Homo sapiens: one gene and its partner. The protein of the gene in region 2 purifies or fractionates together with the protein of the main gene of each other region. This does not show direct contact. Each region holds a gene or a part of one and is shown on either strand. Other genes may lie near its edges.

What was found.
Region 1: the proteins of OSR1 (region 2) and EGLN1 purify together in Homo sapiens (affinity purification with western blotting, with the first as the bait; 2 studies listed by BioGRID). This does not show direct contact.

The regions. Positions count from the first base shown.
Region 1 is NC_000001.11:231,362,955-231,367,292, forward strand, and holds the end of EGLN1 (egl nine homolog 1), read right to left. Parts: intron 3,522-4,338; coding exon 3,457-3,521; 3' UTR 802-3,456; downstream 1-801. UniProt on the Homo sapiens protein: Cellular oxygen sensor that catalyzes, under normoxic conditions, the post-translational formation of 4-hydroxyproline in hypoxia-inducible factor (HIF) alpha proteins.
Region 2 is NC_000002.12:19,352,899-19,356,055, forward strand, and holds part of OSR1 (protein odd-skipped-related 1), read right to left. Parts: intron 940-3,157; 5' UTR 908-939; coding exon 243-907; intron 1-242. UniProt on the Homo sapiens protein: Transcription factor that plays a role in the regulation of embryonic heart and urogenital development.

The DNA of each region.
Region 1 (4,338 bases), on a different chromosome or scaffold from region 2:
TTAGCTATTCAAAGCTCATTGCCCCAATTTTCTCTCTCTGCAATTATGCTATCATATTGTTAAAGGAAAGGGCAATAATCCTCGTTGAAGGCCTACTTTGTTCCATGCATTGTAAGGTACTTTGCACACTGTATTTCATTTAGGTCTCATACAACTGTTTAAGGTGGAAGATGTGCTTTTTGTATATAAAAAAGCACATCTCAAACTTCATCTCAAACTCATTTGCCCTTTACTTCAATCCACCCAGCTATATTTTAGTGTAATTCCCAAATGTTCTAAGAAACGCTGGAAAATAACAAAACACTGTGGAAAATTTTTCTTTAAATAACAGATATATAAACAGGTATTTTGATCTCACCTTAATAAGAGCTCTCATATTTTAGTTATGACCACACAAATTAAACCTTCTTGCATATACACAATGGTACATCTATGACAATTAGAGATAAATGCCTAACCCCACTTCCTTTTGCAGCAGAGGGGTGATACAGATCTGTCAACAGCTATGAATGTTAAAATAATTTTAAAAATCCTACTAAAAGGGCAAGAATTCAAGTGCTGAGAATCCAAACAGACTTCATGGATCCCACAGACAGTCCAATGACCCCAGGGATGTTTCTAAAATTGTTGAACTCCTATGTTTACTGTTCTCTTTCCTTCATTATCATTTACAAAAAGTTATAACAAATGTCCTAGACTAAGCCAGAAAAGCTTTATCTGATGAAAGGGATCATTCGGAAAGCCAATGTATGATAAAGGATTGAAAAACAAAAAAGACAGCTGGAAATAACCACCATAATGTTTCAACAACATTTATACATCTTTTTAATTAGATTAGCTTTACAAGCAACTTGAGAGCTCTTTCATAATGAAACACTGCTTTTCAAATTACATGACTTTATAGTCTATCTGTATATGAATCCTGAAAATCTTTGCCTACTCTTGATAAAGGTCTGTGTTTTACAGCTGGTTAATGTGTTGAATAAAAACAGCATTATGAAGCTTTATCTTTAACCAGGATTAAACACATATAGGCCACAAACAGTTTTAAATTTTGTTTGAAATAGAGTCCTGCTTGGTGACAAGTTAATAGTCCCACTAACATGAAATGAATGGATATTAAATAAATGGCCATCCTGATTTCTTGATCTTTTCACAATGATTCCTAAGAGAGTATATAAACTTTTCCAAAAAATATACAATTTAAGACCTGTCTGGCAAGCACAACCCACAGATAGTAGAATCTAATACTTTTTACAACTGTAGAGGTACACATTTGAATGACAACAGGGGCTCCCAAATTAAAAGGCTGTGGCTGTACATTTTGACAATCAAACAAACCTCCCATCAACATAAAACAATTTCTACTAACCCTAAAAAAGATAATGCTTTTGAGTTGTGGCCTAACGCCGCGCACTGTACTATAGACCAGATGGCAAAGACAACTTGCGCTCCTGGGTTGGGCTGGCAGAGGCACTTACTGTAGAGATGTGATGTTATCATCTGGAAGGAAGGGGAGGAAGTAGAACAAAACTGAATATGGGCGAGGAAAAAACAATAAACTATCACTTTCTCCTGCAAATTCTCCTAAGTGAGATCACTATACTGAACATTCAATCCCATCCTAAGTCCACTGTTGGCTTCACTACACAATTTTTTTCCATGTTTTACATGAATAGCAATGGCAATCTTTTAATAAAAATTACTGAGCTTCCCATAGAAAAGGTCTCAAATTGAATACAAACTATACAGATGCTAAAAATGTCTTAAGTTGAAATATACAGAAAATTTCTGTATACTCACATTTTGGCAAAGAAGATCAAGGACAGAGATAGAAAACCTAAGTGGGCAAGGTCTTACACCCATAATTCACGCAAAATATGGATACCACCCTTTAGGTTTTGCTAAAAAGCCTAGGAAAGTGAAGTCTAAGACATCCGTCCCAATTCATTCTTTAAATAACATGTATGTGAGGCCTTGTGTGATTTTCTAATATTCCTTCCTTGTTTAAAAAGTAAATAAGAAAACCCATGAAACAAAATAAAATTATCTGATTTTGCATCTGTTTTGTTTTTTTCTAAGCTAAGCATCTTTCAGTACAGGTAAGAAGGCTGGCATCACATCTGGGAAATGCCTTAACAGATATCTGAGGAGTTACTGCACATTCCGTCAGTAACACCACACTTCAGTTTCAATGTGTACATAATCTCCCCTTGATGCTCTTCAACAGAGACAAGGTTCTTGTCTGCAGATCAGATAGATCACAGTATTAGGAAAAAAACATAACAGCAAATTTGGAAGTACAATCAATTTAAGGAGAAGCAAAAGGAAAAGACTTAGAAATGGGACATTATTGTCTACATCTAGAGGATACATACACCTGAAAGCTTAAGAAAGCCCTTATCTTAGGAACTTGAAGCTGAGGATAATCTCAAGTTCACTTAGTGCCAGTCACTTTAGTTTTTTAAAAAATTTAACTTAAACCCCAGCCTAGGCAACATGGCAAAACCCCGTCTCTACTAAACATACAAAAATTAGTCAGGCATGGTGGTGTGTGCCTGCAGTCCCAGCTAGTTGGGAGGCTGAGGTGGGAGGATTGCTTGAACCTGGGAGGCGGAGGTTGCAGTGAGCCAAGAATGCACCACTCCCCTCCAGCCTGGGTAACAGAGCAAGACTGTCTCAAAAAAACAAAACAAAACAAAAAAATTTAAACTCTTCTTGTGTCTTTTTCCTTGTAAAACATTAACTAAAAGTTATTGGTAGTAAATGGTGACTGTTTTACAATTAGGTTTCGTTATTGACAATGTCAAAAAAAAAGCAGCAATCTTTAACAGTTCAAATTAGTGTAAGGAAGGACTACAAAACAATCTGATTTTTCAGTTGTAATTAAAGTGCTCCTTTTCTTATTTTAAGTAAAATAAAATTAATCATCAGTCACTGGCAACAATCATTATTAAGAGGTCTTTTAGGGCAAAATTTAATAGTATGAACAGGTTTACAAAAATAGATTGATGTTATTTTGAGGAATAATACTGTAATTTTTTCTCAATTCAGTTTAGATAAATTGTACCTAATATAGAAAAATTATCCCAAATTCAAACTTGATATAAAAAAGGGAGAGATGAAATGAACTCAGCTAGATAACAGATCTGGCAAAATATAAGAATGAAAAAAATTCTACACAGGGCACTTATTTCATATCCAGATGTAAAAACCATTTTCAATTAGTAGCTTATCTTCCTCCTGTAAGCAATCACAGATTTGAAGTTGATCATGCAGTACAAAGTCACAGCAGTCAAAATCTTCTGTTTGATGCAACACAAAAAGTTGTTTCTGTTTCCTTATTAAAATGCGAACTGGTTGTCTATTTTTCTTTATCCCATTTATTCGTATTCACAAGTTAACAAATAGTTAACAATATTGTAGGTGAAGTGGGGTATTGCTGGATCAAAGGCTCTAGAAGACGTCTTTACCGACCGAATCTGAAGGTTTATTGAGTTCAACCCTCACACCTTTTTCACCTGCAAGGTAAAAAAAAAAAAAATTTTCATTCATTCACTAAGCACCAGAGAGCTTCTGCTACTGCATTCCACTGAATTCCTAAGAGTATGGACAATATTTCAACTTTGCAAACATCATCTGAGAACTATCACGCTTGTACTTCCAAAAACTTCCCTCAGCATTCTATTGTGATGAGGTTTCAAATAGTAAACCTTCAAGGATAAAACCATCCTCTACACAGAGATAATGATTTTGTCTTTTTATTTTAAAAGCCATTTGAGTTTCTTCAACAGAGTGTTCAGTGTCTCTGAAAGCACACTGAGCTTGTGCCACAAATAATGGCTTTAAAAATACATAGAAAATGCATGAATATTCCATTTTTATGTAAGGTCGACGTGCGATTAGCAATGGCTCTGGAAAACACAGCTAATCAGTAATGTGAATACTCAGTGGATTTTTGGAGATAGAAAGTAGAGTTAAAGAAAAGAAGGTAAGTGGTCCATCAGATGGGAAACAGACCCCCTGCTCTTGGAGAGGCAGTCCATAAGTGGAAGAGAAGGGGAACTGGCATAATTAAAGGATCTTCAGGTTCAGTACAAGAGTGCTGACCTATGTACACCATTAGCAGATATGGAATCTACATGTCTGTGTCATTTACTGATTTTGGCATTTGAATTCATAATTCTTTGTATTAATTTTCTTCATGTCTACATTTAACATGGAAGACCTAGAGTACTGTTTAGAGCACATCCATTTGAAAAGGAAAGGGTATTAATTTAAGGAGTGAATGAGAGGAAACCATATGGCCGTTACCTAGAGTTAAGTGGCCTTTGACTG
Region 2 (3,157 bases):
TGTGCTTGTCTGGAGCTCACGGAGACCTCACTTAATCTTGGGTCCTCTTTATTCCCACATTTCCTGAACCCATGCTCCAAAACCTATCCCTGGATCTCCTAGGCTTTCCTTCTTGATTTTAAAGAATTCCCTGAAGCTCCAGAGGCTTGGAGCCAGTAGGGGGTCTCAAGAACCTCGTTAGGGAGAAAGATGGTGAGGCCAGAGGCAGAGAGCTCTCTCTTGCGCCACCCGCAGTGCCGCACCTGTGGTCTCGCAGGTGGTCTTGCCTCCGGAAGGCTTTGTGGCAGATGTCACAGGTGTAGGGCCGCTCGTCGGTGTGCGTCCGCTCATGGATAAGTAGGTTGTAGGACTTGGTGAAGTGGCGGCCACAGAACTTGCAGACGAATTCCTTCTTGGTCTTGGAAGGCAGACGTCCCCTTGTGGGCTTCTTTTCTGGAGACAGCTTGGTCACGTCGAGGAGGGCACCCAGCCCACCTGCAGGGGAGCCTGGGCCCTCCCCGCGACCGAGCTTGGCCGGATCTTCTTGCGTTGCTGCCAAGGCCAGGTTGGCAAAATCAAAGCGCGGCTTGGTCTTGAGCGCTGGAACGCTGCCTCCAGCGGTGATCTCGGGCTTGGGTTGAATGACATGAGGGAACCAGGGAAAGGCGGGCAGCTGGAAGCGCGCATCCACCAAGCTGGACACCGTGCCCGGCACTTTGGAGAAAGAAGAGCGCGGCAAGTGCATGGCCGGGTAGCCCAGCGTCCACTGATGCAGGTGCACAGCGTGCAACGCGCTGAAACCATACAGGTTGGGCAGATGGTCCGAAGGCACTGTGGGCAGGCCGTTCACTGCCTGAAGGAAGGAGTAGTTGGTGAGCTGCAGGGAAGGGTGGATAGGCACCGGCGCCGGCAAGGTTTTGCTGCCCATTTCGGTAGTTGCAGTGGCTTCTCAATCCGGATCTGCAAAGAAAAGAAGAAGGCAGGGGCGTGGAGAGGAATAAAGAAGTTCAGGGTGGGTCGCCTTCCTCCTGAATTCCAGCCGAGCCACACCCTCTCCTCACACCCAGCGCAGGAGCTAAGAGTCTAAGACCCCATTCCCAAAACCCACTGCCCTCACAAAGAGGGTGGGAATGTAAGACGCAGGGGAGCCCTCTTTTCAGAACCCTCCTTGGTCTAAGGGCTCCCTCCAAATGGCGTCTGGCAGAGCCACACAACTTGATAGAGGGAAGGGCCTACTGTATGCAAGACACTGAGAAAGGAACAAGCAAAGGGAAACTGCCTGTCCTGTAGAAATTGACATCCAGGTAAGCCCGGGTCAACACAGAATCACAATCTCCTGCAAAGATAACAGGAGCTGGGGAACATACTTACACATTTATTTGCAGATAAACACAGAATTGCACACGTGGATTCAGACATTCTGAGGCAGAATTGACAAGGTGCAAAGACTGGGACAACCAATGTTTTATAGTACAACACTGGCTTTAAAAAAATGCAGGAACCCCTGAATCTCACACACACACACACACACACACACACACACACACGGGATCACATTGCACCCATGAAGAGCCTCACAGACAACACACATACACAGGCGCACAAATGCATGCACCTCCTGGCTCCCATTCATTAAGGTCTTCTGGCTGACCTTCGATTTGGCTTCCAGAAGCCCTGTCATCTTTCTCCTCAAAACCCTCAACTTTGACCTTAAATCTGCTTCCCTGCCTTAGTGTAAGTGAAACCTGTTGGCTCCACTCTCTCTGCAGCTGCTTGTGGACTGACTCTCTGCCTTGCCTTAGCCCTCGGGGACCACTTTGCTTTCAAGGAGGTTGCTAATATCCACATTCATTTACTCTGTCAAACAACTGCAGTCACAAACAAGGGGGTGTTAGTGCCCTCACTCCCCCAAAGAAAAAGGGAGCTGAGTCTTTGGGTTGTCAGCATGTTCTTGTGTGTTGTGAGCCCTGGGCAGGTGGGTATGCCTATGGGCAAGAACACTGAGGCCAGGCCTCCATTCCTGTGGTCTATGTACCTCCAAGTGCAAGGTTGGAGAGCTTGAGCAAGGCCAGAGGAAAGCCACACTGAAGTGACCAGGGGTTGGCATCTCCAGACCTCCTTGGCCATGGTCTCCAGCCTCCGTGGAGACATCTGAGCTCTGCAAAATGCTTTTCATCTCTACCTCCCAGACACTCCTAATTTAGATGTGTCCAGTGGAGGAAAGAACAGGGTGAGCAAAGTCTAAACTGTCAGGGAGCCTTGGGAAGCCCAAGCACTGAACTCCTGGCTCTTAGCTTGGGGCTACTTAAGAAGTCATTGTCACAGCAGGGTCCGTGGGACTCCCTTCTCTCTTGCCTAGCTTCAATCCCCTGCTGTTGACTTCTTCCTTTACCCTTCATTACTCTCCTCTTCCTAGGTCCTTTCCTCTAACATGGAGCAATTCCCCTTCCCTGGGATGCACTGGCCTCTGCTCTGCTCCCTAGTTTGGCGTGCCCCCTCCCCAGGTTGAGCTGACCCTCAGCCCAGGGCAAGGCCCAGGCATAGACTCCTCTGCCTTTCGCTGCAGCGAGGCTTTCAAAGCCTGGCTCTGTCCAGGGATGTGCAGTGCCTTTTCCCAGGAGGTATGAGGGCAATGTTGACCCAGGAAAACCTTTTCTCCTGGAAGCTGGCACGGGGGCCACTGGCTGTGTGGTGGGACCTAAGGAAAGAGGCCTTCCTGGGAATGGGGTGTAAAAACACCACGAGCTGGCCGTGATTTGCCTGCGCAGTTTAAATTAGCACTCGGATAAAAACCGTTGCAATGAATTTAGCCTCAGGGCAAGAGGAGGCATATTATCTGCGTGATCTGGCCTCTGAAGCAGAGCGCTGGTGCCGCTGGCAGCGCCGTGGCTTCAGCAACGGTCATCTCTACTGCGCCAAGCTCGGGTCGTGCCCGGGACAAATTGAGACTATCCCAGAGCTCGGACACAAGGAGAAGTAAATTTCAAATTGGGCCAGAGAGGAAGCTGAGACCCATTTGGGTTGGGGAAGGGGAAGGAGGAGAAGCCTGTCTAACTTCAAAGGTCGGCCTGGACTTAGGAGGGATGAGCGCTCTTTGAATTGCTGTCACCTCTTCTTCCCTTCCAGGCGCTGGAAATCAGATCCTTATCTCCGGGTCCCGGACCCCGCTGGGCGCCGC